Regions from separate parts of the Homo sapiens genome. Here regions 2, 3, 4, 5, 6 and 7 are each linked to region 1. The links come from fine-mapping of genetic effects on gene expression. A gene starts in region 1. Each other region holds a variant in brackets. All regions are shown on one strand. Distances are between the middles of the regions. Region 1 holds the start of TBCD (tubulin folding cofactor D). Region 2 overlaps TBCD (tubulin folding cofactor D). Region 3 overlaps RAB40B (RAB40B, member RAS oncogene family). Region 4 overlaps TBCD (tubulin folding cofactor D). Region 5 overlaps TBCD (tubulin folding cofactor D). Region 6 overlaps TBCD (tubulin folding cofactor D). Region 7 overlaps TBCD (tubulin folding cofactor D).

Evidence for each region. PIP is the estimated chance that this variant, and not a neighbour inherited with it, causes the effect.
Region 2: its variant is fine-mapped to the expression of TBCD in whole blood (TOPMed, PIP above 0.99).
Region 3: its variant is fine-mapped to the expression of TBCD in whole blood (INTERVAL, PIP 0.98).
Region 4: its variant is fine-mapped to the expression of TBCD in whole blood (TOPMed, PIP above 0.99). The same link has a PIP of 0.9 or more in breast, cerebellar hemisphere, cerebellum, lung, skeletal muscle and skin.
Region 5: its variant is fine-mapped to the expression of TBCD in nasal epithelium (TOPMed, PIP above 0.99).
Region 6: its variant is fine-mapped to the expression of TBCD in whole blood (TOPMed, PIP above 0.99).
Region 7: its variant is fine-mapped to the expression of TBCD in whole blood (TOPMed, PIP above 0.99).

Annotation. Positions count from the first base shown.
Region 1 is chr17:82,750,212-82,754,275 of GRCh38, reverse strand. TBCD (tubulin folding cofactor D) reads right to left here and starts at 2,211. Exons shown (of 39, transcript NM_005993.5): 1 at 1,899-2,211. The coding sequence starts at 2,082. FN3K (fructosamine 3 kinase) reads right to left here. Exons shown (of 6, transcript NM_022158.4): 6 at 3,080-3,859. The coding sequence ends at 3,521. RefSeq lists silencers at 1,650-1,969, 2,660-3,019.
Region 2 is chr17:82,878,638-82,882,701 of GRCh38, reverse strand. The region is part of intron 14 of TBCD (tubulin folding cofactor D); the gene reads right to left. Among named protein-coding and RNA genes, the nearest start is that of ZNF750, 41 kb to the right of the region's middle. RefSeq lists an enhancer at 1-17. The variant T/C (reference allele first, on the strand shown) is at 1,990.
Region 3 is chr17:82,663,657-82,667,720 of GRCh38, reverse strand. RAB40B (RAB40B, member RAS oncogene family) reads left to right here. Exons shown (of 6, transcript NM_006822.3): 2 at 3,165-3,225. Among named protein-coding and RNA genes, the nearest start is that of MIR4525, 2.6 kb to the left of the region's middle. RefSeq lists an enhancer at 2,879-3,379. The variant T/G (reference allele first, on the strand shown) is at 2,491.
Region 4 is chr17:82,918,672-82,922,735 of GRCh38, reverse strand. It overlaps TBCD (tubulin folding cofactor D), which reads right to left. Exons shown (of 39, transcript NM_005993.5): 24 at 2,118-2,180; 25 at 1,159-1,235. Among named protein-coding and RNA genes, the nearest start is that of ZNF750, 81 kb to the right of the region's middle. RefSeq lists an enhancer at 1,679-2,878. The variant CT/T (reference allele first, on the strand shown) is at 2,308.
Region 5 is chr17:82,926,192-82,930,255 of GRCh38, reverse strand. It overlaps TBCD (tubulin folding cofactor D), which reads right to left. Exons shown (of 39, transcript NM_005993.5): 28 at 3,765-3,856; 29 at 2,933-3,070; 30 at 2,268-2,351; 31 at 985-1,143; 32 at 756-894. Among named protein-coding and RNA genes, the nearest start is that of ZNF750, 88 kb to the right of the region's middle. The variant G/A (reference allele first, on the strand shown) is at 1,604.
Region 6 is chr17:82,792,583-82,796,646 of GRCh38, reverse strand. The region is part of intron 7 of TBCD (tubulin folding cofactor D); the gene reads right to left. Among named protein-coding and RNA genes, the nearest start is that of TBCD, 43 kb to the right of the region's middle. RefSeq lists an enhancer at 2,116-2,836. The variant C/G (reference allele first, on the strand shown) is at 1,724.
Region 7 is chr17:82,932,087-82,936,150 of GRCh38, reverse strand. TBCD (tubulin folding cofactor D) reads right to left here. Exons shown (of 39, transcript NM_005993.5): 34 at 3,416-3,493. Among named protein-coding and RNA genes, the nearest start is that of ZNF750, 94 kb to the right of the region's middle. The variant A/C (reference allele first, on the strand shown) is at 2,288.

The DNA.
Region 1 (4,064 bases):
CCCTATGATTGTATACCCCTAACCAATCAGCCACCCCCACCCTTTCCCCCAGATTACCTCTAAAAAACCCTGGCCCTCAAATTCTCAGGGAGACTGATCTGAGTAATAATAAAACTCCAGCCGGGCGTGGTGGCTCACTTTGGGAGGCTGAGGCGGGTGGATCACGAGGTCAGGAGATCGAGACCATCCTGGCTAACACGATGAAACCCGTCACTACTAATAATACGAAAAATTAGGTGGGCGTGGTGGCGCGCACCTGTAGTCCCAGCTACTCGGGAGGCTGAGGCAGGAGAATCACTTGAACCTGGGAGGTGGAGGTTGTGGAGGTTGCAGTGAGCTGAGATCTCATCACTGCACTCCACCCTGGGGGACAAAGTGAGACTCCGCCTCAAAAAAAAAAAAAAAAACCTCTAGTCTAGTCTCCCTTTCAACCGGCTCTGCGTGAACTAAATCTTCTCCATGGCAACTCCCCTGCCCTGACAAATCAACTCTATCTGGGCAGCCCGCAGAAAGAACCCACTGGGGCCGAGCGCAGTGGCTCACACCTGTAATCTCAACACTTTGGGAGGCTGAGTCGGGCGACCACTTGAGGTCAGGAGTTTGAGACCAGCCTGACCAACATGGTGAAACCCCCTCTACTAAAAATACAAAATTAGCCGGGCGTGGTGGCGCGCGCCTGTAGCCCCAGCTACTCGGGAGGCTAAGACAGGAGAATAGCTTGAACCTGAGAGGTTGAGGTTGCAGTGAGCCAAGATCGCACCACTGCACTGCACTCCAGCCTGGGCAACAGAGCAAGACTTCGTATCAAAAAAAAAAAAAAAAAAAAAAGGAAGAAGCCATTGGGCTGTTACACCAGGAACAAAAAATCTGGCTTCACTGGTCCCTGGATGAGGGTCCCTCACCCTCAGAACAGTTCTGCACGAGAGGCATCGTTATCCGCCCCAGCTTACACCCGAAGAAACAGGCAATCAAGTATCAGGTCCAAGCGACAGGGCCAGAATTCACAGGCAGGAGGATCTGACGCCGAACCCGCACTCCTCCCACAAGGCCCCCCACCCTGCCTGACTCCTAAAATCAAAGCGCTGTCATTCTAAAATGAGGAAGGCCAAATAATGCAAAAGTTCTTCTTACTCAAAGGGTCTACAAAGATGATTTTACTGAATTACAAAACCCCATGTAACTACTTAGCTATGAGCTCCTAAGGACTTGTTTGGAAATAACCCATTATAGACAGCGGTAAAGGTGGGTCTGAACTCGGAGAATTTAGACTCATCGAATGGCCTCCACAGGGGTACCTACACCCCACCCCGCCTGCAGAGGCACGGACCCGGCCAGCCCGCTCTGTCCACGGCGTCCACGGAACGGACAGGCTGCTGCCCTCCCCACCCGAGGCGCGCTTTGTTTGCAGCAGGTTTGTTCCCTGCGTCCCCCTCTCTCATTCCCTATCTCCCTGTCCACACAACATTCACAGAAACCGCGCTCGGTGGAGGCAAGCCTGGGAGTCCACACTGCAGGGCTGACCAGCTGTCCGGAGGGGTCTGGCCCGAGTCTCCCCAGCCCAGGGACCTCCTCCAGTGACGGAGACGGGGGACGGAGGGCTTCTGCACCCCGCCTCCCGGGGAGGCCGCAGAGGCTTCACCCCGTGCGAGAGCAGGCGCTCCGCGGGCCACGGTCCCCCCAAGGGAGGCGCGCGTCTGCCCCGTGCACCTAACGCCGCGCCGGGGTGGCCCTCTCCCGCCTAGGAAGGCCGCGCCCCACCACGGCCCGCGGGACCGCGCACCGGCAGCCCTCGCAGAGCGGCCGGCGCCGCCGGGCTGCGGTCCCCGCCCGGTAAAGTGCACTCAGCGCGCCGAACCCGGGCCGGGGGAGGAAGCGGGCACGCGGCGCCGCCCACGCACCGCGGAACCGCTCCAGGGCCACCTCGCGCTCCGCGCCGCCGCCGTGCACCTCCCGCAGGCGGCCCAGCAGCGCCCGGGTCTCCGCGCTCTCGCCGAACGCTTCCAGCGCCGCGCCAAAGGCCAGTGTCTCGTCCTCCGCCTCCTCCTCGGGGCCGCCCGCGGCCGGTTCGTCGCTCAGGGCCATCTCGGCAGCCTGGGGACCGCGCCCCCGCCTCACGTGTTCGCAGATCCCACTCCGCTAGAGCGCGAAAGCCAGGGATGAAGGATGAGGGATGAAAAGGAGGCGCCCGCTAAGGCGGCAACCGACGCTGGCCCCGCCCCGCGACCTCCGACCCCACTCGCCGGCCTCGCTACGGAACGCGTCGGCCGCCAAAATACCGCGCGCGGGACGGCGCGTGCACTTGAGGACGCGAGCGGGCACGGGTCCCAAAGGCTCTGGAAGAGCGCGCCGTGGACCCCACAGGGCGCGAGCGGAGCCGGGACCGCTCAGCGGGGCCTGAGCACGCGGTGGGCGGGGCAGGACAGGAGGTGGGGCCTGAGACGCGGTGGGCCGGGCTGCGGGGTGAGGCCGCCGCCGGAGGACAGCGGGGCGGAGCCTGAGCAGGCGGTGTGCGGGGGGGCGGGGCTTCGGGATGGGGCCGGGGGCCGCCAGGGCGGGGCTTGAGCACGCGATAGGGGGCGGGGCTGCGCGCAACGGGGGCGGGGCCCGGGCACGCGTGGGTGGGAGGGGCAGGGCTTGCGGTGGGGCCGGAGACAGCGGGGCGGAGCCACAACACGCCGGGGGGCGGGGCGGGGGCGGGGCGGGGGCGGGTGGGACCGGGGGACCGCGGAGCGGGGCGGAGCCTCAGCATGCGTGGACGGGGAGGGGCGGGGCCTGAGCACGCAGTCGGGGGCGCGAGGCGAGCCCCGGGACCCACCCCTCAGAGCCAACCGCCCTGACACTTATTCGCGCCACGCTGGGACCCGCGCGGATCACACGGGCCCCGCGCCGAGTGGTGGCGCGCCCCAGAGCGGGAGCGGGAGCGGGGCCCGGAGGCCGCGGTGGGCGCTGCGCCGACTTTGGCCTTGGCTACCGGGTCCGCGTGCGTTTCCCCTGAATCGCCGCAAAAACGTCCGTGCACAGCTCGCCGTGCGTCTGGCCCTGAAAGCAGCCCCACGAGCGGAGGAACGAGGCGCAGGACGCCAGCCGAGACCCGCTGCGGGCTTTATTGGTCCCCAGGATCTGGGAGGGGTCGGGGGAAGGGGGACAGGGACAGGGGGGACGGGGACGGGGGACGGGGACGGGGGGACGGCGATGGGAGACGGGGATGGAGGATGGGGACGGGGGAACGGAGACGGGGACGGGGCAGGGGGGACGGGGACGGAGATGGGGGACGGGGATGGGGGGTCGGGGACAGGGGGATTGGTATGTGGACAGGGGGACAGGGGGACGGGGGACAGGGATGGAGGGACGGGGACGGGGGGACGGGGACAGGAGGATGGGGGGACGGGGGGATGGAGACGGAGGGACGGGGAGACGGGAACAGGGGGACAGGGACGGGGGCACAGGGACGGGGGACGGGGGGACAGGGACGGGGAGACGGAGACGGGGACGGGGACAGGGGAAGGGAGGGCAGGGGCCGCTACTTGAGCAGCCTTCGCATGGTGCCCAAGGAAGGGCTCCTGTACTCCCGCCCGAAGTGGTTCCAGTGGTTCAGGTAGTTAAACAGCTGGTAGAGCAGCAGCCGCTGGTCGAAGCCCGGAGCCTTGGGGATCTTCCGGTGGTAGGCGGTGAAGAAGGATCTGGGGAACCCCCCAAACATCAAGGCGATTGCCAGTTCAAACTCGGAATGGCCATAGAAGGAAGCCGGGTCGTAAATAATGGGCCCCACGTCGTCCTCAGCCACGTTTCCCGACCAGAGATCCCCGTGGAGCAACGCGGGGACAATCTCTAGGCCACAAAACAGATCCGGGATCTTCACCTACGAGAGCAACGGCTGCAGTTATCGCTGGCCTCTGGGAGCCCCGGTCTCATCACCTCGTTCTTGGAAATAAGGCAAAGCCCACTCGCGATCTGCTTCGGTGTCCAGCCCCAGCACTGCCTGCCAAGCCCAGAAATAGGGGCCACCTGACTTCAGGGGAGTCTAGCTTTGTCTAACTTAGGATTTCCTCCTAATTTAGGTCTAG
Region 2 (4,064 bases), 130 kb before region 1:
CAGGCCCACTTGTTCTCCAGATTCACAGCATCTCGAGCCTGTTTTCCTGCATCTCGCACTGTCTGTCACCCCAGACCCACTGGCCTTGCTCTCCAGGTTCACAGCACACCTCTCAGGCAAGGGGCTCACGTATCCTCATGTTCTCTGCGCTCCTCTCTCCTCGGCCCCATGAGTCCCCAGGGCATGGGCTCGGGGATGCTGAGCTAGGAGACCTACAAACTACAGCCACAGAACTGAAACTCGGGGGCATTTATCAGAGAGAGCACTTGTCCCCCAGCCTCCAGTGCTGGGCACAGGTGCCCGCTCCAGGCCCTGGAGATGGCCCAGAACACGCCACAGGGCCACAGTCTCCTCCAGCATGTCCAACGTCAGGGGCTGGGGGGGAATGGGCTTGACAGCGGGGTGCTGGGCACAGACTGAAGGAGGCAGGAGAAACAGGTGGGAAGGTCCCATGGGTGCGAGTGGGTCTGAGTGAGCAGCCCACAGAGGTGAGCCCACAGCAAACAAGGAGGAGCAGGACAGCTGGCCCCAGGGCCGGTTGAGAAAGTCCTCCCTGCGGCTGGACTCTGCACTTCCTCGGAGAAGCTGGGGCATGTGACTCGGGCCTTGTGACCAAGTGCTCTGCTGATGGGGATTTGGGACGCCCAACCATCCAGGAGCCCCAGGAGAGGCCAAAGGTTGGGTGGGGCAGCAGCCAGATGGCCAAGAGGGCCTGGGTTCTGGGGAAATGCCTGCAAGTCTCACAGGCTCTGCCTAGGAGGGAGGGAGGGAGGAAGGGAGGAGGGGAGAGGGGGGAGAGACAGAGAGAGAGAGAAAGGACCCCTAGAGTGTGGTCACTGAGAACCACAATAAAAACAGAAATTCATAGATGGAAAGGGTAGGAAGTTAAACTAACAATATAGCATAAACATAGGAAGCATCTTTTGAAATAAGAATGGCAAATGAAATTAAATAAAACAGAAACAACATAATACAAACCACCAGGTGCATTTTCCACCCCAATCAAGCTCAGACGTGCCGAGGCCCAGAGCGGGCTCCACAACGACATCAACGCAGCCCAAAACACGGCCACCAACCATGGGCAAAGCCAGGAGGGCACGTAGGCACGGGGTACCCCAAGGCTCAAGCAGAGGGGCCCCTCCAGCCCCAGCAGCAGGCAGCAGGCCCGTATCGGCTGGGAGCGAGAAGCTTCCATCCAGAGCGGGTGCGGGGCTGTCAGGAGTGGCCTGGCAGCTCTCCCCGCTGGCTGCTCCAGCATCAGCACAGCCCAGACCCACGTTCCGGGACCTCCCCAGGATGCTGCAGAAGCTCTGCACCCCTCATCGGCGGCAAGCGGCCTGACCGAATGAGCTACCGTTTACTTGGTTTAATTACTAACAACCACGGATCACCAGTGGATAAAGCGTTTATCTCACATTTTAGAGAAATGTTTGCTTATTGCAGGGACAATCTGTGGTCTCAGCGTGGAAAGGCCCTCTTCTACCACAGGGCCGCTTCTCAGCTCACCACCGGGCCGAGAGAGACCCCAGCGTCCAGGCCACAGCAGCAAGCCCAGGTGGTTGCAGTGTCCAGCCAGCCTTGCAAACAGACGCCAGGAACCAGAGCCAGAAAAAAAACAGAAGGATGGAGCCCAAGGGGAATAGGGTGGGAGGCTTCTGAGGGCTGGGGGAGGCCCTTCCCAAAAGCACTGGCCTCCCTGCCCTGAGGCCCTGCCCTGTGTGGCCACAGCCACAAACAGAGCCCAGAGCTATGGGAGTACACGGCCTCCTTCCCCGAGTTCCGCCTGGAGCCATCCAAAGTCTACCCCTCGGCCACTTGCTCACTCACACTGCAAGGATGGCCACAAACCACCACGCTCTGCACCCTGGGGAGACGGCAACAACAAAGTCCCTCACGTACGGGCCACTGCTATGCTCCGACAGACCCTGCGTCCTCCCCGCCCAGCCCCTCCTGCTCCTGTGGACAGACGGACGGACAGACAGGTGTCAC[T/C]GTGTGGGGAGCCTGCGGTAGGGACCCTGCAGTTCCTGCTGATACCTCCGGGCCCAGCACCTCCCAACACCACGGAGGCCCACCCGCTACCTGCCCTGAGGGCCTGGATGCCTCCTCCTGCCAGATCCTTGGGGCATCCAGCAGCACACCCAGGTCTTTCAGTTCCTCCACGTAAACAACAACAAAGTCATAAGCCCAACTACCCTGGTCACAGCATATCTGTCCCCACCCTTGTCTTCAGCAGAATAATACCCACTCCCAAAGATAAGGGTGTCCCACTTCAAACATGTTCCTTTACCTGACAAAGGGGAATTAAGGTTGGCAATCAGTTGACCCTAAGATGGGGAGAGGGCCCTGGATTACTCCTGCAGCCCAGCGGGTGCCGAACACAGTGGTACACACCAGCGGCCCTGGCTACACCTGTGCTCCATCTGTCTGTGGGAGGCAGAGGCAGGAGGATCCCTTGAGCCCAGGAATTTGAGTACAGTCTGGGCAACACAGCGAGACCCCATCTAGACAGACTGATAAGTAGACAGGTAAGGAGATAAATACATACAGGAAGGAAGAAGGAAGGACAGACACAGGAGGCAGAAGAAAGGACCACAGGCATAGGGTACGTGAAGGATGAAGCGAGACGTGGACGTGGCTGGCTGTGAAGGTAGATGAAGAGCCCATGAGCAAAGGAATGCGGGCAACTCAAGCAGGGAAGCAGAGTCTTCCCTTGAGCCCCCCTGAGCCTCCAGAAAGGACTGGAGACACCCAAGGAGACAGGTAGGCCTGTGACCGCCAGGTCCGTCCAACAATACACCACTCCAAAAAAAAAAAGGAAAGATCACTGGGATGAGTCTTAAGGGCACTGTGCCAAGTCAACGAAGCCAGAATGAAAAGCCTACTGATTATTTCCGTTTATAAGACACTCCAGAAATGGTAAACTATCAGGACCAAAATCAGACCAATGTTGGCCCAGGGTTGGGGAGCAGACTGGGGAGTTTTTGGGGGAGACGGACTGTCCTGTTTGGTGCTTGAGTTGTAGAACACAACCACATGCAGATTGAAGAAGCAACAATCACAGACCTGGGGAGCCCAGCACAGAGGGAAGCGGCAGACGTGTCTGCATCCCGGACCAGCACAGAGGGAACCGGCAGACTTGTCTGCATCCCAGACCAGCAGCACCAGAAGGGCTCACCCGAGCGATGGCCTGGCAACGCTATGCCCAGGGTGAGGAGGATGCACAGAGCGTCCCACCCTGAGTGGTGAGTCTGTTGCTCACACAGGTGTGGGCTGGCAGCTCCAAAATCACGTCAGATGCATGACGGCAGACGCACGGCAGCAGAGCGTGCTACACAGTAGGCCCAGAAGCGGCACACGAAGGGAGGCCAGGAGGAAGCTGGGCTAGAGCTGGTGTCTGTGCAAACATGGACTGTGAAGAGGGGCACACACTCAGCTACAGAGGGAGGGGACCTAGAGGCAGCTGAGGCCAAGCCCGGCGTCCTGGATTCCAAATACTGTTCTCCACCGAGAGGATGTGAGACTCCTGGGAAGTGGTGGATGCTAGGGCTGGGGCAGGGGCAAAAAGATAAGCCAGGTGCATCTTGTGGTGCCAGAAGGAAAGAAAAAAGGCTCAGGAAAAAAGAAAAAAAAAAAAAAAAAAAAGAACAGGATCTTGCTGAAAGGACACAGAAGCCAACCTGAAGTGGCCAAAGCTGGAGCAATTTGAGCAACATTAATAACAATAGTTAGTGTTAGATTATAACTCAAACAAAACTAGTAACAATAGTGTTAGATGATAACCCCCAAACAGGATGAGCACCCATGAGTCCACACTGGCAGGAGCGAATGATGAAATAAAGCTGGGAGAGGAACGAGCCTTCCTTAAGAACAAGCTGCAATCACTGAACGTCGGGGTGGGGACACAGGAACCACCACCAGACCACACAACAAGGTCTTTGGACAGAGCTCGGATGGGGTGAAAACCAAAGGAGAAACAGCAGGATGTTGCATAACCTTCGAGTACCCCACAAGAACACTGCTAGTTACAGAGGAAAACACAGTCTCCTCAAGTGGAGGCACCTGGC
Region 3 (4,064 bases), 87 kb after region 1:
TCCTCTGACGGGGGGAGTTTGCTCTGGTGTTGCTTGGTCTAATCTACCTGGTGGCGTGATGGGCAGTCTCTGTGGACAGAGTGTGGAGTTTAGCAGGAGACAGAGGAGGATGCGGGAAGCCTGGACTCCATGTCTCTGGGGCTCTGGTGGCACCACAGAAAGAGCCTCTGGAGTCCAGGAAGGGGGCAGGGCCCGGAGGAGGAAGCAGAGGGCAGGGGACAGGCTGGACACAGCAGCTGTGGGAGGGAGGGGTGCTCGGGATCTCATGGAAGGCGCTGCACAGGTGTGCTCAGATCAGGCAGGTGTGCCATGCACGTGCTCATGGCTGCATCAGTGGAAAGTGGAGGACAGAGGCCCAGAGCTGCTGCAACGCCCAGGCCTGCCTGAAGATGTGGGCGACCAGCTGTCCAAGCCAAGTGGGAGGCCACCGGTGGCACCGCCACTGCACACCTCGCTCTGCCCGACAGGAGACCAGGAACTCGGCACACTGCCTCCTGGGATGCAGGGGGGCTTGTGGCCAAGTCCAAGGGTTCTAGACCCTTCGAGGGGGCAGAAGCTGCTTGAGAACCGTGGCCTCCGCAGCCTCGCATTTTTAGAGGAGCCTGTTTCTGGGCACTCACTGGCTACATCGTGGGCTTCTCTGGAAGGAGAGCTGCAGAGGCCGTGTGCTCCACGACGGTCTCCAGGGTGAGGTCTGGTGCGAGCCTCGGCGCTGCTTCTCCCCTCGGCCTCTCAGCGGCGCGCTTCCCTTTAGAATTCTGATTCCCTATTCAGCCATACTTGTCAAAGCACTCAACATCCGATCACAGCCGAGAGTGAGGCCAGGGCTTGTCTCTTGTAGGTTTAGTGCTTTGAGAGATACTGTCAAGTAAATCCTATACATGAAATAAATCAAGCAAATCCCACAAAGGCTGGTCATGTCTTGTTACTAAGCAGTTTGGGTTCCTGTGATTGTACGTGTCATTGTACCTGGTTTTAGGAAGGCAGTGCTCCTACCCGGCATTCTCCAGCCCCTTAACTCAAACCCTCTCTTTCCATGTTCTCAATGACAGACCTGGTGCTCATCCGGAAGCGCTAGAAGTGAACACAGGAGATGTTTCCTAAAGAAGCAGAACACTGGTGTCTGGGGGGTGATGGGGGCGGGGAAACATATTTTTCCCTTTAAAAATATTTATTGGCCGGGAGCAGCAGCTCATGCCTGTAATCCCAGCACTTTGGGAGGCCGAGACAAGTGGATCACCTGAAGTCAGGAGTTCAAGACCAGCCTGACTGATATGATGAAACCCCATCTCTACTAAAAATACAAAAATTAGCTGGACGTGGCGGTGTATGCCTGTAATTCCAGCTACTCAGGAGGCTGAGGCAGGAGAATCACTTGAACTCAGGAGGCCGAGGTTGCAGTGAGCCAAGATTGCACCACTGCACTCCAGCCTGGGCAACAAGAGCGAAATTCCATCTCAAAAAAAAAAAATGTATTGTGGCCAGGCATGGTGGTTCATGCCTGTAATCCCAGCACTTTGGGAGGCTGAAGTGGGAGGATCACTTGAGTCCAGGAGGTTGACCAGCCTGGGCAACACAGCAATGCCCTGTCAATTAGCCAGGTGCGGTGGCAGGTGTGGTGGCAGGTGCGGTGGCAGGTGTGGTGGCAGGTGCGGTGGCAGGTGCGGTGGCAGGTGTGGTGGCAGGTGCAGTGGTGTGCCTATGAGCCCAGGAGGTAGAGGCTGCAGTCAGCTGTGATTGTGCTACTGTACTAGAGCCTGGGCGAGGGGGAGACCCTGTCTCAAAAAAGATTTTTTTTAAGTGTAGTTTTTTTTTTTTTTTTTTTTTTTTGTTGTTGTTCTTGTTGTTTGTTTTGATACAGAGTCTCCCTCTGTCGCCCAGGCTGGAGCACAGTGGCACAATCTCAGTTCACTGCAACCTCCGCCTCCCGGGTTCAAGCAATTCTCCTGCCTCAGCCTCCCTACTAGCTAGGATTCCAGGAGCCCGCCACCACACCCGGCTAATTTTTGAATTTTTAGTAGAGATGGGGTTTCATCATATTGGTCAGGCTGGTCTTGAATTCCTGACCTCAAGTGATCCACCCGCCTCAGCCTCCCAAAGTGCTGGGATGACAGGCGTCAGCCACCGCATCCAGCCCTTAATTGTAGCTTTTTATTTTAGAAGAAGTGTTCCAGCATGGTGGCTTATGCCTGTAATGCCAGCACTTTGGGAGGCTGAGCCGGGCAGATTGTGTGAACTTAGGCGTTTGAGACCAGCCTGGGAAACATAGCGAAACCCCGTCTCTACAAAAAAATACAAAAATTATCTGGCCCTAGTGGCACATGCCCGTAGTCCCGGCTACTCAGGGGACTGAGGTGGGAGGATCACTTGAGCCTGGGCTGTGGAGGCTGCAGTGAGCTGTGATCACGCCACTGCACTCCAGCCAGGGCGACAGAGAGAAACTCTGTCTCAAAAAAAAAAAAGAAGAAGAAAGGCATTCTCGGGTTTTTT[T/G]TTTGTTTGTTTGTTTTTAACTTGAAAAAATAGAAATGTGGAAAGAAGGTTCCAGCCTACCTGTAATCTGCACCCCAGAGGTGGCTGGGACGGGTGTGCAGTCCCGTGTCCCTGCACATGCGTGGTTCACATGCACATGTACACAGCTGAGAGCGGGCATCCCACGCAGCGTCACGTCTGTCTTTACTGTACTTTCCTAGTGTGATACTGGGGGACGCAGTCTCAGTGTCTGCAGAGCCGCTGCCTTAGCCCCGTTCCCTTGGAAACAGAGCTGAGTCGGAGCTCTCAGGCCTGCAGGCTTGGGGAGGAGGTGGGGAGGGAAGGACCAGCCCAGACGGGGGCACACCCAGCGGCCACAGCCCCGCGGCAAACCCACCGGCCTCCAGGTCACATGTAGGCCCTGCAGTGCCTGTCGGGGAGCCCCCTGGGCCAGGGTGATGCGAGCCTGACCCCCACAGAGGCCAAGGCGGCTGAGGACAGGAGGGGCCCGGGTGCGGGAGGGCGCAGGCAGGGCCCCTGTGAGCTTGGGCAGACACAGGGAGGGGGTCCCATCCGCCTGCCTTGTAAACCTGGAAGTTGCACTGATGAGAAACCCTTTTCTTCCCTGAACGTGAGACTTCCAGCGTCCTGTTAGCTGCAGCCTCAGGCCTAAGCCGTCTCTAACCCTTCCGCAGGCATCGACTACAAGACGACCACCATCCTGCTGGACGGGCGGCGGGTGAAGCTGCAGCTCTGGTGAGTCTGGAGGAGGTGCGAGCGTCCCGCACCCCCAGGGAGTAACCCCCCTGGCTGGCATAGCACCCCCTGTCAGCACAGTGCCCCGGGGAGCACCCATCCCCCACCACCATCGGCACAGCGCCCCCGGGAACACCCTCCCACCACCACCGTCGGCACAGCACCCCGGGGAGCACCACCAGCCCCACCACCATCAGCACAGCACCCCGGGGAGCACCCTCCCCCCACCACCATCGGCCCAGCACCCCAGGGAGCAAGCTCCCCCCACCACCATCTGCCCAGCACCCCAGGGAGCACCCTTCCCCCACCACCGTCGGCACAGCGCCCCCGGGGAACACCCTCCCACCACCACCATCGGCACAGCACCCCAGGGAGCACCCTCCCCCCACCAACATCGGCACAGCACCCCGGGGAGCACCCTCCCCCCACCACCGTCGGCACAGCACCCCCGGGAACACCCTTCCCCCACCACCGTTGGCACAGCGCCCCCGGGAACACCCTCCCACCACCACCGTCGGCACAGCGCCCCGGGGAGCACCCCCAGCCCCAGCTGCACCAGGGCTTCTCTGAAGGAGGTGGTGGTCCGGTTGTCTGGGCCCCCGTCATCCAGAGTAGGGGACCCCAGAACGGACATAGCGCTGTGGCTGGGAATCGGCTTTTGGGATCAGAACCTGTGGCCTGGTGTCTGTGGGAAGATGCCAAGAGGGGACCGATGCAGCGTGGTTGAGGCAGCCCGGGGCTCCTGGGTCCCCCACGCCTGGCTCAGTGATGCCACTGAGCACCCGGCAGGGAGCTCGGAGCGTCCTGGTGCCAGCGGGGCTGTGGTCGGGCCTGCGGGT
Region 4 (4,064 bases), 170 kb before region 1:
GAGGAGGTGCGTCGTCTACAGGGTGCTGCATTCCACGAGTCACCACCTGTGCCAATCCCAGGGGCAAAGTGCACCAGCATCATGGCCAGTGTGAATTAATCATGGACTTTTGAAATAAAATTTTGAGGCACTGATCATGATGCATTCAAATTCAATTAGTAGAACGGTACTTGGATCCTACAGAATGTTCAAGTTCCTTAAGAAAAAAAAAATAAGAAAATTGAAGATGCTAAGGAAAAAGAAATGCTAAGCATGGAGGAAGTCAGAGAATTACAAGACACCTAAATGTACTTCCATTCTTCATCCTCAATATCAAAACCTAGTCAACGTTGGTAACCATGGTTTTTTTTGTTTTTGTTTTTGTTTTTGTTTTTGAGGCAGGGTCTTGCTCTTGTCACCCAGGCTGGAGTGCAATGGCGTGATCTCGGTTCACTGCAACCTTCGCCTCCCAAGTTCAAGCAATTCTCCTGCCTCAGCCTCTTGAGTAGCTGGGATTACAGGCACGCGCCACCTCGCCCCGCTAATTTTTGTATTTTTAGTAGAGATGGGGTTTCACCATGTTGGCCAGGCTGGCCTCGAACTCCTGACCTCAAGTGATCCACCCGCCACTGCGCCGGGCCCATGGTTTCTTATCTATGCAATGAGATCAGCGTTACAGCTCTGTGAGTCCAAAGTCCACCTGTAACCCCCAGGACGGGAGGGGAGGGCAGGTGGCCGGGGACACACACACACACTGGCACCCACACAACATGACCAGGTCAATGTGTGCGAGCAGAGGTCCTGGGGTGCTGTTTTCTCATCTGCACAGGAGCATCATAAAGGGAGTTTCCAAACCTCAGATCCTACAGGACACGGAACTCAACAGAGCACAGTTACTATTGATGCAGAAAAAGTATTTCAAAGGTAACTATAATTAAAACAGCCAGAAGCAATAAAAAATTAAACATTCGGATTCCAATGGCTGTATTGGATTTTCTGGTTATAAACCGTGTAGACGCTACCATCCGGGATTCCAAATAGAATTATGCCCCCATTTGTCAGTTATCAGGCTACTGCAGGGACAGCCTCATGATGCACAGTCGCCAACACAAACACCATCCGTGACTAACACACTAACACCGCCACAGCGCCGGCCGGGAACGCCCATGCTCACTGTACCTTCATCTGCTGGCGGGAGTGACTTGAGATGAGATGGAGATGTCTCAAAGTGTCATTTATCAGCCATTGCCAACCATCTGTCAAAAAATCAAGTTAGCGTACCCAGGCAATCAAAAACACCATGAAATCAAAAACAACAGCAAAAACAGCTTCTATTAATACTAATCTTAAAGTCGATGGTAACCTTTGAGAGGAATCTGTGGAAAAGCCAAAGTGAACATTCTCCACGTTGTGTTAAGTCTAAGGCCCCTTCCTCTCATGGCTGTTAAATTGTGTAAGCTCTTATTGAGGGAAATACCAGCATTCTGTAAATTTTTATACATCACATTTTGGGAAACTTTTATTCTTTTGTTACCCCTAAATCTTTTCCTTCAAACGGTCTCCCCCGGCTCCCACCAATATAAACCCAAATCTTTAACTCAATTAGATCCTGCACAAGCAACAAATGTGAAGGCTATTCAATTAACAAAAAAAAAGTCCTAACTTCTGAGGCTGCTGAGACAGCCCCGGGACACCACAGCCCTGGGGGCTCCCTTCACTGTGCTCTGGCAGCCCAGTGTGGGGGGCTGCTGAGGAACTGGAGCCGCCTCTGCCCACAGGGTCCGTGGTGTCGGCGGCCGGCACGCTCCTGGTCCACGAGGGCCTGGGTGGCTGCAGCTCCCGACTGTCTGCCTGGGAGAAGAACTGACCCAGAGTGCCGGGCCCTGGGCATGGAAGCGAGGAGGTGGGGGTACTGAGGTGACGGCGGGGAAGGGCCCTCCTGTGTTGGGGGGAGAGGGCGGTGGGTACCCATTATTTAAGCAGGTTCTTGTAACAACTTCAAGGCAACGTATCCGATTAATATCTTGAACCTTTAAGCTATAATCGTTTATCGCCCCCATCCTAACAGGTTCATTTTTACCTTTTAATCTGAAGTCATTCTGTAAGAAAATGCTATTATTAAAAACAAAAGCACTTACCAATTACGGTGTCACCTCTAAAGGGCATTTTGGAAAGTGACAACTTTTCTATTAAAACACACACTGGAAAAAAAAAAAAAAAGGATAGACGCAATGTTACTTTTCTAAAAGCGCCTGCCACAGCGGCTTGCCTTTGCCACATTCTGAGTTGTGTGCGGCCAGCTCCTGCCCCTCACCCGCCCAACCTACC[CT/T]GCTGCCAGGGCTGGAAACATCCCAGAACCATTTCAGAACCACCATGAGAAGCCCAAGACGCCTCCTCCGCTGAGCAGCCTGAAGAAAGTGCTGCAGACCCAGCCACGTGGCAGAAGGCCCATGTGTGAGCCCACGTGCACTTCAGAGAAGCCGGGCCGGCCTGTCAGGGAGCTGCAGACGTCCCTGTGACAGGCTGTACGGGAAGCATAGCGGCTTCTGCTCCTAGACCTGTCACTCAGGACCCAAGCGACAGACAGCCATCACCTGCAATGCTCCAGACCACAGGTCATGCCTGTCACTTCCCCACATAGCTCGTCACTCACACTCTCCATGACCAGAAACGTGGCCCTGACCAGCCACGAGGGGGCCAGGACGCACGAGACAGAGACGACTGGACAGCATCAGCAGCTCCCACGGCCACACACTGCTCTAGCTCCCACCGTCTCTACCTAACAACGGAACCCACTCGCAGACGCCTGCTGCACACTTGTTCATGGTATTTGCTATTTCTCCTGAGGGACTAAACTCTCCTTCCATTTTTTGTCACCGTGAACAAGGAGGCCTGACCGTGCTACAGATGCGGAGGCCGTCGGTCCACCTGGCGTCCCTGCACACAGGACAGGGACCACACACACACTTCCCATCGTCACAGATACTGCCACTCATCAAACTGAACAGACCAGACAACTCCTGTTCCACGAGAGACCCTGCTCTGTGTCTGTCAGCACCAAGATTCTTCAGTGCCAACCGCAGCCGACTGGAAAGAGGAAAACGGTCCTCTCGATGTGAAGTAACCTGGTACTTCCATGCCTCCGAGGTGAGGCCGGCACCCTCACCGTCCACGGCCACGTGAGTCTGCTCCTCTTCTGCATGAAATGCCCACACGTCTGCTCTGCCCCATTTCATACTGGATCCTTTACCTCGTCACAGGCAGTTTTACAATTTAGTCTTTGTACACTAATTAACTTTTTACCTTTTCGACTGTAGAACAGACGTTTATTCTCAATCTCCGTTTTCCCTACCAACCTACACATGGTCTATTCTTCAATATAAGGCCCAACATAATTATCTCCTTTTGTTTCTACCTTGTGGAATTATTATGATAAAATCTGTTAGCTGGGGATTACATGCCAAGAGGGGGGAAACAAAAAGAAACAAAAAACCCCAGAAAACCAGTTCTTACCACAAGTTAGAAAAACCCAGCGAGGGGCTGCTGGGACCTGACATTCAGGGTCTTCTTTAAACTCAGAGGAGGGGAGGAGAAAGGAAGCGCCGGGCGAGACTCTGGGCCCCCCCCGTAAACTACTTCTCTTTACTTCTGCGCAGATTTGAAAATTTCTAAACTAAGAAGTTTTCTTCAGAGACTGACACTGTCCTACAACGTCTCCTAAAATTTCTTCGAGGATTTTTATGATGGTAGTTTTTATGCGTAAGTTATTAGTTACTCTCACATTTAGTTTTAGATACGACTTTACCTTCTTCCACGTGGGCACCTGTGACACCATCACTCACTCAAGTGACACGCCTTTGTCCCAGCGCGAATCCTTTCAGCTCTGAACAGAGTACTGCTCTGATGTGTGTTGAGGACTGGGAAATGAAAGTCTTAACTAGTTTTTAAAATAATTTTCTTGGAGATGCACCTGCATGTGAACTTTAAATGTATTTTATAATCAAGTTAAAAACGGCACGCGCGGCTCAGCGGTGCCTCAGCCTCTCACGAAACGGCACGCGGGGCTCAGCGGTGGAATGAAGCGG
Region 5 (4,064 bases), 180 kb before region 1:
GCGGCCACTCACCTTGGGTTTCGCTCACGTTTCCCACTGAAGCGGGATTTGATAATCCCCGCAATTCCCGAGTGCAGAATGTCTCGGGGCCCCGCTCGCATGTGGCCCGGGTCTCCCCGCACGCGCCCGCACGGCGCAGAGGGCACCTCACGTCCTGGGGCCCGGGTCTCCCCGCACGCGCCCACACGGCGCAGAGGGCACCTCACGTCCTGTTACGTGTTTTCTAGGACTTAGCAGCTGTCACAGGGTTGCCACATAAAGCAGGTCATGACCCAAGGTGCAGGGGCCACGAGTGACAAGATGCAGAGAGGCCTTCAAGTTCCACAGCTCAGCCACAGACCAAGGCTCTGGAGACCCTCCCCACAGACATGAGAAGCTGGGCCTGGAGCCCTGAAAGTGGAGGGCGGAGGCCGATCTAGAACCTGATGGAGCCCAGGTACCCACATGCAGGCATCAGACACAGGTCCTGGAGGATTGAACCCCGAGGGGACGCTGGGAGCTCCAAGGCTGCGGCCGCAGGAAGAGAGTGGCGCTGGCCCTGTCCCACCTTCATCAGACTCAACCATCCCACAGGCCCTAAGCCTCCTGGGTCATGAGGAAGACACTGGGCCCCTGACCCCCTAACCAAATATGCCCGAGAGAGATAGAAAGCAATGGAAGAAAAGGCCCAGCTCCATACATGCTCCCAAGAGACAGGGAAGCACCAGGCACTCCTGGAGCCACCTCCTGCCCCAGCCAGCCCGACGCCTCCTCACCGTCGACTCCGTCAAGCCGCCCAGGGACACGACTAGCCCCAGCAGGACGTGGTAGCGGTAGGTGGGCAGCCCAAGGAGCTGGGTGATGCGTGGGAAGGCCTGGGAAGGTGCACTCCAGTTCACGGAGGCCACATCGGACCTGCAAGAGAGTGAGTGAGACAAGGCCGGGCTGCCAATGATCTCGCCATGGCTGCGGGGCCAGCACGGGGGGCCTACACCCCGACAGTACCTGGGAAACAGCTTTTCCAGTTCTCCTCGGTGGGGCACGTGGGGGATGGGAGGGCTGTCAAAGTGCAGGAGCGTCAGGAACACGCTGGCGGCGTGAGCACGGAAACGGTCAATCTTCTCACTGGCCTGCTGGGCCACACAGCACATGATGCGCTCACAGCTGCAAACCGAGAGCAGGAGGTAAACCAAGGGCGGGCGGTAAATTAAGAGCGGGCGGTAAACTGAGCACAGGCGGTCCGAGCCGTGACTCCAGCCCAAGCACCACGAGGACATGCGGGCTCCTCGGGACATGGTGGCTGAGTTGGCAGCTGACACCAGGACACTGGCTCGGAAGAACCACACTCCGTTACCTTCACATCCCAGGAGCCCAACCCTACAGGTGCGCAGCAAATACATGCTACGTACTTGTTACACATGTGCTACGTGTTACATGCGTGCTGATGAGGTCTTAGGGTTGAAGCAGGGACAACAAATAGGATTACAGGAGCGGGTGGAGAAGAGTGATGGGGACAGAGAGGCCGGGGATGGGGAGAGAGAAGCTGGGGCTGGGGAAGAGATGGGGAGGGGGAAAGAGAAAGAGGTGAGAACTAAGGAAATCAGGCCCTGGGATCCCCACGGCC[G/A]AGTGTCCCTGACAGAGAGACTGACAGCAAGGGCAGGGCCTGGACCCCCATGACTCAGTGCCCCCGACAGAGACCCGCAAGGGCAGGGCCTGGACCCCCTGACTGAGTGCCCCTGACAGAGATCCGCAAGGGCAGGGCCTGGACCTCCATGACTCAGTGCCCCCGACAGAGAGACCGACAGAAAGGGCAGGGCCTGGGGGTACCCACAACCCCGTGCCCCCGACAGAGACACACAGCAAGGGCAGGCCCCAATGGCAGCCTCAGGTGCAGGGAACTGAGTGATGGCTCAGCTGGTCCTGGCAGGAGCAGACCCCCAGGTTCAGGGTCCTAAGCTGAGAAGTCCCCACCTCCTGCCCGGCCCTACCCCGGGAAGCTGGCTGTCATCAAACTGGCCAGAGCACCGTTGGAGGCCCAGGCTGGGGAGCAGAGCCTCGTCCTGGGGGCACTGGGCAGAGGAGGATGGGCCCCAGCTCACGCCATGGCTATGGGGGCAGGAGGAGGGGCCTGCACAAACCTGGGGTCAGGGACCAGAGAGGCTCTCTGGGAGGAGGGTGTGTGCCCAGCAGTGCAAATGCCACTGAGCACCAGGACCGCCCGCCCCGCCAGCCTCCCCAAGCTCGGGGCTGCCCTCTAGGATGCAGAAGAGCTGCGACGTGACACTCACGTATGGGCCTCGATCAGCTCAGGCTGGCTCCGAGCCAGCAGAAGTGTCAGATCCATCAGACTGGTCATGGCGGCCTTGCGGACCCTGATGGGACAAGGAGAGGCAGAGACACCCAGCTTGAGAGGGGGGTTCCAACCCTGGTTCTGCCCACCACGCCGGCAGCCTGTGTGAATTCGACACCCGTGACTAACCCCACACAGAGCCCAGGCACGCTGCCAGGGAGTCACGGGGCCTGCAGAGGTTCCCTGTGCGCTACAGGGACGTGTGCAGGGAGCCACCCACAGCCACACACACCGGGGCCCCGAGGCATCCTACACACACAGGCGTTTCAGGGGTTATCAATCCCACTACAGCAAGAAATGTTGGCAAAACCCAATGTAAGCAGCCGGCAGCCTTTCATTGAAGACGCGTCCTCCCTCACACCCTGTCAACGAGGACGACACAGGCCCAACACCTGAGGACGGGCTGGACAAGCACCTGCAAAGCCCTGCCACGCAGGCTCACCCGGGAGCAGAGAACAGGTCATCTTCCCCAGAGCCTTTAAAACGCAAAACACGGCACAAATCTACAAAGATTTCTCCCTGCAGAAAAGCCCGGGGCCTCCGAGTTTCCACGGAATAGATGGGCTTCTCAGAAGAAGCGCTCACCCACTGCTACGTACGTACCAGGTGCCCACGTCCCCTCTGCTGTCCGTGGTGTAGTCGTCCATGCAGCCCAGCAGCGCACAGTAAATCTGGGAAACATTCTCTCCGCACACAGCTTCGTCTGGGGCTCCTGCTTTCACACCAACAGTCTGGCAAATCCTGAAATTTAAAATGTGTGAGCTAACAAACAAACATCGGTGAGCCTCATCTTCCACATCGCAGAGGGCTGATGTGTGTTCCTGATCCTGAGAAGACACGCTCAGAACAGTCCAGGACCCTCGGGTAGATCAGAAACACAGAGCTCCTTCCACATGTATGGAACGTGGGACGTGCTTCCCCGAGGTCACGCTCTGCCGTCTCTCCGGTTGAAAGGTGGATGGGGACGCCCCCTGCGGCTGGTCCCTCCCACTTCCCACCCTGACTAGAGGGAACGGATGCTGGCATAGGAGAGAAGGGGGCGTGCGTGGCCCCCGCGGGACTGCTCCTCTTGTGTGCCTGCAGGGAGGAGAGGGCATATGGCGTGGCCCCAGGTGCGTGTCTGTCAACGAGTGCAGAGATCATTCCAAACACTGGCTGGCAGGGTCAGCTCCTCTTTGCCAACCTTGGGCCAGGACACATTCTCCAATTCTCCAAGGGGCCCAGTGTCCCTAAAGAAGTTTAACATTCACTACGACTATGACAGCAAGAGAATGAAAGAGCCTCCAGCAGCTGGGACTGACGATCCTCTGGAAGAGAGGAAACCTAGGAAGTGAAGAATCATAAGTCCTGCCTCTGAGCAAAAACATCCCCCTTAGCGTTCATCTGCTGGCCTTTCAGAGACTTACGACTTTAGGGAGGAACTGTTGGGACTCACCTCGCAATGGCCTTCAAGCCGTCTCTCCTGGACTCAGCAAAACTTACGTCCTCGGGGGAAGTGTGGGTAACTGCTCTTAAACCTGTGAGAACCTGGAAAGCAATAAAGAATCACAGAAGAACCATAAGCTATAACAAAGTGCACTCTTTAGGGAGGTGGCAATGTTGGCCCGGAGCCACAGACCCCACACCATGAGATAGGCAGCTCCTGGCACCACCTTCCTCACGGCCATCCATGGCCCCTGGTACAACCCAGGAAGGACACCCGGGGAGAGGTCACCTCCAGCCTCTCCACGGCCCC
Region 6 (4,064 bases), 42 kb before region 1:
GATCAAAACAGGAAGGAGACAGCCAGACAGACCACCAGTCACGCCTGTGGAGCAGAGCAGGGTCTCTGCGCTCCTGTTCCTCTGTCTGTAAAATGGGGCAGTGGCAGCACCCACCTCCCTGAGCCACTCAGAATAACACATTCACCAAGGTGATCAGAGACTTAGCCCCTTTCTCTTTAGCGAAATGGATAGTAACACGTTCCCTACCAAGTGAATGGAGATGATCCTTGTTTGCCCAAAACAAGTTCTCATTTAACTTTAAGAACTCTTCCCCATCTTTAGTTTGTGTGAAATATAAAATCGAAAGTTAAATTATTTCACACCAGTCCAGATGTATCTAATTTAATATGTGTTTTAACCCTAAGTCATCGGTTTACAGAGCCAACACTTGCTGAGCAGAAACCGTGGGGCACAGGCGAGCTCCCCGCAACGGGACGCGGGGTTCGGGGGCAGTCGCAGGGCCAAGCACACACTCAAATTCCCTGGGAGGTGGGCTGACGGCCTGAAGCCCACCAGTGTGCAACGAGAAGCCGGACCGCGCCTGGGGGATAAGAAGACAAGACACTTCACAGAGAAGCTGTCACTGCAGCCGGCTGGCCAGCTCAGTGGGGAACAGAGTTTGCCAGACGGACAATCAAGGGTCCCTCACCCACCACCTTGGTAGGCTTCCAACTGCCACAACCAACAGAGGCAGGCAGGAGTGATGCCAGTGACCCCCAATCCCAGGTCAGAAGCCTGGCGGCCTCTTTCAGGGCCTCTCCAGACACCTCCCCTTGAGACACTCCCTCCGGGAAGCCGGCTGCCATGCAGGAAGAGCCAGCTTCAGTCAAGGGCCCCTGCCGCACCCAGCCCTTCAAGGCACCTGCCACGTGGTCTTCTCGGCAGAGGCCCAGGCATCAAAGGGCAGTAACAAACGGCCCCCTGCACCCCACCCTGCGAGGCCACAGAATCGATCCACGCAAGAGTGCGGCTGTCACTGATGCCACCAGCTGTGGAGTACGTTGTTCCACAACAAATGAACCTGCGAGCGGCTGAAATCTCATCCTACAGGCAAAGAGCACCACCGTATCACCTGCAGCCATGGCCACATGACCAGATTCCAACAGCAGCTGGATGGAGAACCTGGGGATGAACAGTGAAGTGCTCAACAACGAAGACCGCTACAGAGGCTGCTGGAAAACCCCAGTGGGAAAGGCCAGAACCTAAACCAGAAGAGCAGCTGTGCAGCTGTGGGCGGACGCAGGACAAAGATCCGGGAAATGACCTCTCTCAGCAACAGGCTACCGTGTTCCCCGGTCTCTCTCAGCAACAGGCTATCGTGTCCCCCGGTCTCTCTCAGCAACGGGCTAACATGTCCCCTGGTCTCTCTCGGCAACAGGCTGACGTGTCCCCCAGTCTTACTTGGCAACGGGCTAACACGTCGTCTGGTTTCTCTCACTAAATAAAAAGAATCCAAGACACTGTGAAATTCCTAGAGTGCCCTCACACATGAACGTTGTTTAGTTACTCAATTCCTATGAAGTGTAGTACAACATTCTCTACAGCAGACTAAGATACAAGTGGTGATGAGTTCTCGGGAAAGCAAGCATCATCTCTTGTAACTGGCCTGGATGCCCCACACCTGGAAAGGCCCAGCCCAGCTTCCACCGTCCCCAGCTACACACAGGAGACAGCACCAAGGCCAGGGCCCGCCACCATCTGCAGTAAGGGAGAAACCAGAACC[C/G]CACACATTTACAGGGCGAAGGGTCTTTTTCTCCTCACACTTCTCTCTACCCTGGGGACAGTTTCCAGCTGAATTACACAGGCAGCCTCCTGGGCATTCAGCACACACAGAGAAAAGCCCCAAAAGTTATCCACTTTCCCAGGCATGGGTGCAGGAGGGCAAAAGAGACGACAGGGAAGGAACGAGTCAATGAAGACAGGGCTTTGTTTCCATTTATTTCACTGAAAAGTAAGGCCATCTTCACCAGAGAAAGTGTGCAGTGTGCAGTGGCCAGTGCTCAGCGTGGCGGTGGGATGGGGTACCTGTCAGCAGGAGGACGCGGCCAGAGAGAGCGCACTCTAGTCATCAATGGTCTTGAGTGCTCATAAGCTAGGCCATAAAATGGGGGGCACAGCCCACTTTCATGGAAGCATAATGGGAACCAAATTAAAACCACCTGCTGAAAAGCATACACTAGACAGAGGTGATGACACCAGGGATTAGAGGAAAACAGCCCTGCATGGTAAATGAGGAATGACTGCAGGTCTGTTTTTGTTGTTCTAGAAACCAGCACAGCACAAGCTGCAAACAAAAGGAGTTTCTCAGCAATCATCCTAACCCGCCCCACCTTTCGATGGCTACCCACCCAAGCTGGCTTCTCTGCAACGTGCGAGCCAGCTTCCCCCCCCTGGGGCATGTTCTCCAAGCCCAGTAAATCACAGGCTGTCGAGCTACTCGGGAGCAAGCTCACCCGCTGCCAAGCAGGAGATGCTGGTTTGAGGCTCCCTTCAGGCACTGCCAAATCTAGGCCAAGAAAAGCAACTCCACCCGAGGCCCTGGGAGAAGGGCCCCCACACCACACCAGTTCAGGCTTGGCTCTGGCTGGTAACACAGGCTTCTGAGAAGCTGTGAGTGCCGGCCGGCACTGAGGCAGATGGCTGAGACCACGCTAGCTCCAGGCCAGCGGGTCACCCTGTGGCCCCACATAACCATGCCGACTCTGCAGATGAGGAGAGCGAGTCTGTTCCCCTTTCTGCCATCCCGAGTCCTGCTCCGACACCAAGAAATGGTATCTTGGGAAGCAACCAATCGCATCCGTGCCCCCGCAGGCTCAGCACACGGAGGGTAGCCGTGCCCCCGCAGGCTCAGCACACGGAGGGCAGCCATGTTCAAAGCCACTCTTGGGCATGCCACACAGAGGGGCCACAGGACAGGCACGGAAGAGGATCTTTAACACCAAAACAACCCTTTCCAGGCTGGAATGCCTTGAGAGCACAGCCCCAGGTCCGTGCCTGTGCTGCAGCGAGCCCACCAGGGCCAGGCCTTTCCTGGAGGGCAGTGAAACCCATGCTGGGCTGCACCCTGCAGGACGTGCAAAGGCTTCACTGAGGAACTCTGGTACGCTCGAGGCTCCCCTCAGCAGCAGGGCAGGAAAAGAACCTTCCCACCACACCACTACTGGAGGCCAGAAAAACCACAACGTCCAGTGCATTTGCTGGCCTGCAAAAATCAAAGCGAGGGACATCTTAAAGAGCCCCACTACCACCCCTAGAAAGAGCAGCAGTTGCCCTAGACAGGACGGGAGAGCGCTCAGAAACAGAAGAGAGCTTGTCCTCAAGGCGGGGCCTAGGGGGCACTGGTGGGGACAGGCCAGACCACTGCCTCCCCCAGGAGCGAGCAAAATGCACTCCCCTCAGGACCACCACACATTCAGAGGAAAAAAGCCATTGACGGAAGTGAAAACTTTCATTGCTGGATTGGTAAATGACTGATTAGAATCAGAGCCCCAGAGTGAAAAAATATACTGTTTCTGACAAAATAAATTTCTGACAAATTATAAAGAATTTTAAGAAAACAAATATCAAAATGAAAACTAATTTCAGGCTGGGTGTAGTGGCTCACACCTAGAATCCGAGCGCTTTGGGAGGCCAAGGCAGGAGGGTTACTTGAGCCTAAGAGTCCCAGACCAGCCCGGACAACATGGCAAGACCTCATCTCTACTAAAAGTACAAAAATTAGCCAGGTGTGGTGGCGTCCACCTGTAATCCCAGCTACTCAGGAGGCTGAGGGGGGAGGATGACTTCAGCCCGGGAGGTGGAGGTTGCAGTGAGCTGAGATCATGCCACTGACGCCAAAAAAAAAGGTAATTTCACACAAAAATGCTTCAATGATCGAAATAATCACATCTAGCTTTTATCTTTCCAGAACGAAGTGTTATTTTTCACCAAACTTTGGACTGTAAGGTAAACACTAATTACCTTCACAGGTGGGGGCCATGCAAGGCCCAGCTCCACACCCCAGCACCGACCTGGCAGCCCCTGACCTGGGTCCATGTCCTCATCCATAAACCAAGGCAACACAG
Region 7 (4,064 bases), 180 kb before region 1:
GAAACACGTGAGCGTGATAATGACAGAAAAACCAGGGAAGGAGCAAACCTGGGCAGGGGGTGGGAAACCCGGGCCGTTTCCAGGGAGCACAGGCAGACTCAGAGGTAACACTCAAAAGCAACAACAGAAGCAAGGAGGAAGTGGGAAAATATTTTTAATGTGCTACAACGAAACAGCTGCCTGAATTCTATATACCCTCTGAAAATAATCTGCACATAAAATGGGAAAGCTTCACCGCAGCAGACCCCACTCGAGGAAATCCAAGGGAGTGTGCTCTAGGGAGAGGGAATGTGAACCCCGATGGGGGGGGTCCCAAAAGCAGTAAGTGATGAGAGACAAAGAAAGTAAAAACGTGGAAAATTCAAAGTAACGCAAATTACACATACCACAATGAACAGGAAAGTACGTACATCTAAGACAAAATATCCGACAATAGCAGCACATAACTCAAGACGGAAGCACGCGGAACCAACACGTTCTAATATCCTTGCTATTGTCCAATAAGGACAAAATGCTGAAAACTGGACTTCGCTAAGAATACGTGGTGTCATTTCTAATTTCTAGGGTAAGCGTTAACAGAAAAAAGTAAAATGTCCCAAACAAATATATGAAAACAATGGAATGACAAAAGCAATTCTACTAATCCAACAAAAAGCACAGGTGGGGGCGGGGAGGGGGCACTGGGAACGCAGCACAGGGAAAAGTCCTGTGAGTGGCAGGCTGAGAACCAAGGGGATTATAAAGGTCATGAAGGAGGCAGGTAAAAGCTACAGGCTGAATTTTTACAAAACCATACACTGTTCTAAGAGAGGCGTACAAAAACATACATGTATGAAGATACTGAAAGTAAAACGATGGAAAAAAGTATACAGTTCAAAGTCAAGTGAAGCAAGACAAAGAATGAGTGGAGCAAAAAGCATCCTAGAAATGGGTGATAAGGGCAAGATTCAGCCCACAAACACGCTTCAAAATCTGAAAAGCCAAAACTGACAAAACTGTAGAGAGAAATACAAAGCTGTATTCATAGCAGGACATGGCAGGAGGTATTTTCTCTACCATCCTATCTTGGAAAAAAAATTTTTTTTTTGAAACAGAGTCTGGCTGTGTTGCCCAGGCTGGAGCACAGTGGCTCAATCTCAGCTCACGGCAACCTTCGCCTCCCAGGCCCAAGCCGTACAGGCACCACCACACCCGGCTAATGTTTTTGTATTTTTTGTAGAGATGGGGTTTCACCAAGTTGGCCAGGCTGGTCTCAAACTCCGGAGCTCAAGTGATCCACTCGCCTTGGCCTCCCAAAGTGCTGGGATTACAGGCGTGAGCCATGGCGCCCAGGCTTATTTTGAAATTTTTAAGCCAGAAAAATATATGTCAATATTTTAGGCCAGGTACGGTGGCTCACGCCTATAATCCCAGCACTTTGGGAGGCAGAAGTGGGCAGATCACCTCAGGTCGGGAGTTCGAGACCAGCCTGACCAACATGGTGAAACCCCATCTCTACTAAAAATACAAAATTACCTGGGCATGGTAGCACATGCCTGTAATCCCAGCTACTAGGGAGGCTGAGGCAGGAGAATCACTTGAACCCAGGAGGCAGAGGTTGCAGTGAGCTGAGATCGCACCAATTCACTCCAGTCTGGGCAACAACAGCAAAACTCCATCTCAAAAAAAAAATTTAAATGGAGTATTTAGCATTGTATTAAAGGATAATACGCCACAACCGAGCTGGGTGCACCTGTGAACATGGAGGCTGTTCCAACAGCAGGTGTAAGAAGGTCAGTCAGTGATGCCCCATTAAGAAATTAAAAGGGGAAACCCTTCAATGCTGTTAGATTTAAAAACATGTGCAGCGTCCAGCAAAGATGGAGCAACAGAGACCAGATCTGCCTCCCGCCCGAAGGTTAAGGCAGAGCCAAGTCCAGCAGGTGGCAGACTCCAGCGGGAAGCCCGTGGTGAGAAGCGGGAAATTCCAAGTCTGCAGAGCTCGCTCAGGTTCTGAGCACCAGAGGGGGCTTCCTGGGGGCCGCTGAGGACTAACCTGGGCCTGGGTCAGCCAGTACCTGAGTACGAGGACGCTGTCCAAGGCTGGGGACGAACCACCCAAAAGATGGCCAGAAGCCCCGGCACTGCCCCAGCAGCGGTGGGAAGGGAAGCGCCAGGGAGCAGAGACCTTAAAGGGGCAGAAAACCCTGGAGACCAGCACAGCTCTGGGTCCACCTGACAGCTTAAGAGTAGCGCCCAAGCCAGGCTCAGTGGCTCACGCCTGTAATCCCAGCACTTTGGGAGGCCG[A/C]GGTGGGCAGGTCACTTGAGGTCAGGAGTTCGAGACCAGCCTGACCAATGTGGTGAAACCCTGTATCTACTAACAATACAAACAATCAGCCAGGTGTGATGGTGCACAGCTGTAATCTCAGCTACTCAGAAGTCTGCGAGAGAACTGCTTGAACCCGGGACGGGGTTGCGGTGAGCTGAAATCGAGCCACTGCACTACACCCTGGGCAACAGAGCAAGACTCCATCTCAAAACAAACAAAAAAAAAGCAGTGCCCCCAAAAACAGACCACGCTGTCTCCGGATGACCCAACGTGCCCCAGATACAAATATATCCAGGCCAGACGCAGTGGCTCACACCTGTAATCCTAGCACTTTAGGAGGCCAAGGCAGGCACTTGGGGCCAGGAGTTCAAGACCAGCCTGGGAAACATAGTGAAATCCTGTCTCTACTAAAAATACAAACATTAGCCGTACATTAGACTACAGCGCATGCCTGTAGTCCCAGATACTTGGGAGGCTGAGGTAGAGGCTGCAGTGAGCTGTGATTGTGCCACTGCACTCCAGCCTGGGAAACAGAGCTAGACCCTGTCTCAAAAAAAAAAAAAAAAAAAGACTGGCCCAACACGGTGAAATTCAATGAAGCAAGAAAATATGGCAGCAACGAGATGACCACTCAGAGCCAACAACCCAGCTGAGACCAGCCTGGGGCATCCGCGTGGCGCAGAAGCAAGGAGCTCCAATCTCCTGGGCAAGTCCTCGCCAGGTCACCGGCCTCTGCCCTCTCCCCTGCGAGTCTCATCCCCGTACAGCCGAGGCCCCTTCAGGCCCTGCGGCTCCCAGCACAACCCTGAGGCCCACCCCTGGCCCGGTGGGATAGCTGGGGGGAGAGTGCACAGCAGGGCCCCCGCCTCAGCCCCAGATGGGGCTGACTGCACTTACAGTCATAATATGTCATTATGTAAATATGTTATTATTGCGTTATTTTGAGGGCCAGCTGTGATGACGGTATTTACAGTCACCATAACTGACCCAGAACGCACTGGAAGATCATTTCCTGGAATTCTGATCTCTGTGTCTGATGACTTTTTCTTTAATACATGAGCTACTTAGGCTTAATCGGAAAGGAAGTCATGAAAAGCAGAGCCTCACTCCTCCTCCGTGGTGAAGATGTCGAAGCAGCCGTGGGTGAGCACGTGGTCCAGCGTCTTCAGCAGCGGCACGGACACCCTGAGGGGAGAAGGAGCTGTGAGACCCTGGACACCAGCAACAAGGACGCCCAACTCCCTGAATGGCTGAGAGTCAGCAGGATCCCAGTGGAAAGCGACAAGCCCCCTTTATAATTTACGTGGAAACGCAAAGCTTCAGGAAAAGACAAAACAACTGTGGAAAGAAGAAACAAGGCTGGAGGCTGACGCTGAACTTCGAAAATGATGGTAAAGTGGAAGGGATAGAAACAGCACGGCCCTGGTGCAAAGTGAAGCAAACACGTCGGGCACAGGAGAGTCCAAAGTAAACCCACAGTTTCTTACAAAGCTGCAACGGCAATGCAGCGGAGAGGGGAGCCCTCCCAGCAATTGGGGTGGGCACCGCTGGGCGTCAAGGTGCCTGTGCCGACGCTATACCATGTAAGAAACCTCACTCAAGACGCGTCCCAGGTCTAAATACACAACCCAAAACTATAAATCTTCTAGGACAAAACAGAAAATCTCAGTGACCACGGATTAGGCAAGCTGTCTTAGACACACCAGAAAAATCTGTGCCTCAGAGAACAAGGGGAGATGCTGGGACGTGAGGAAAG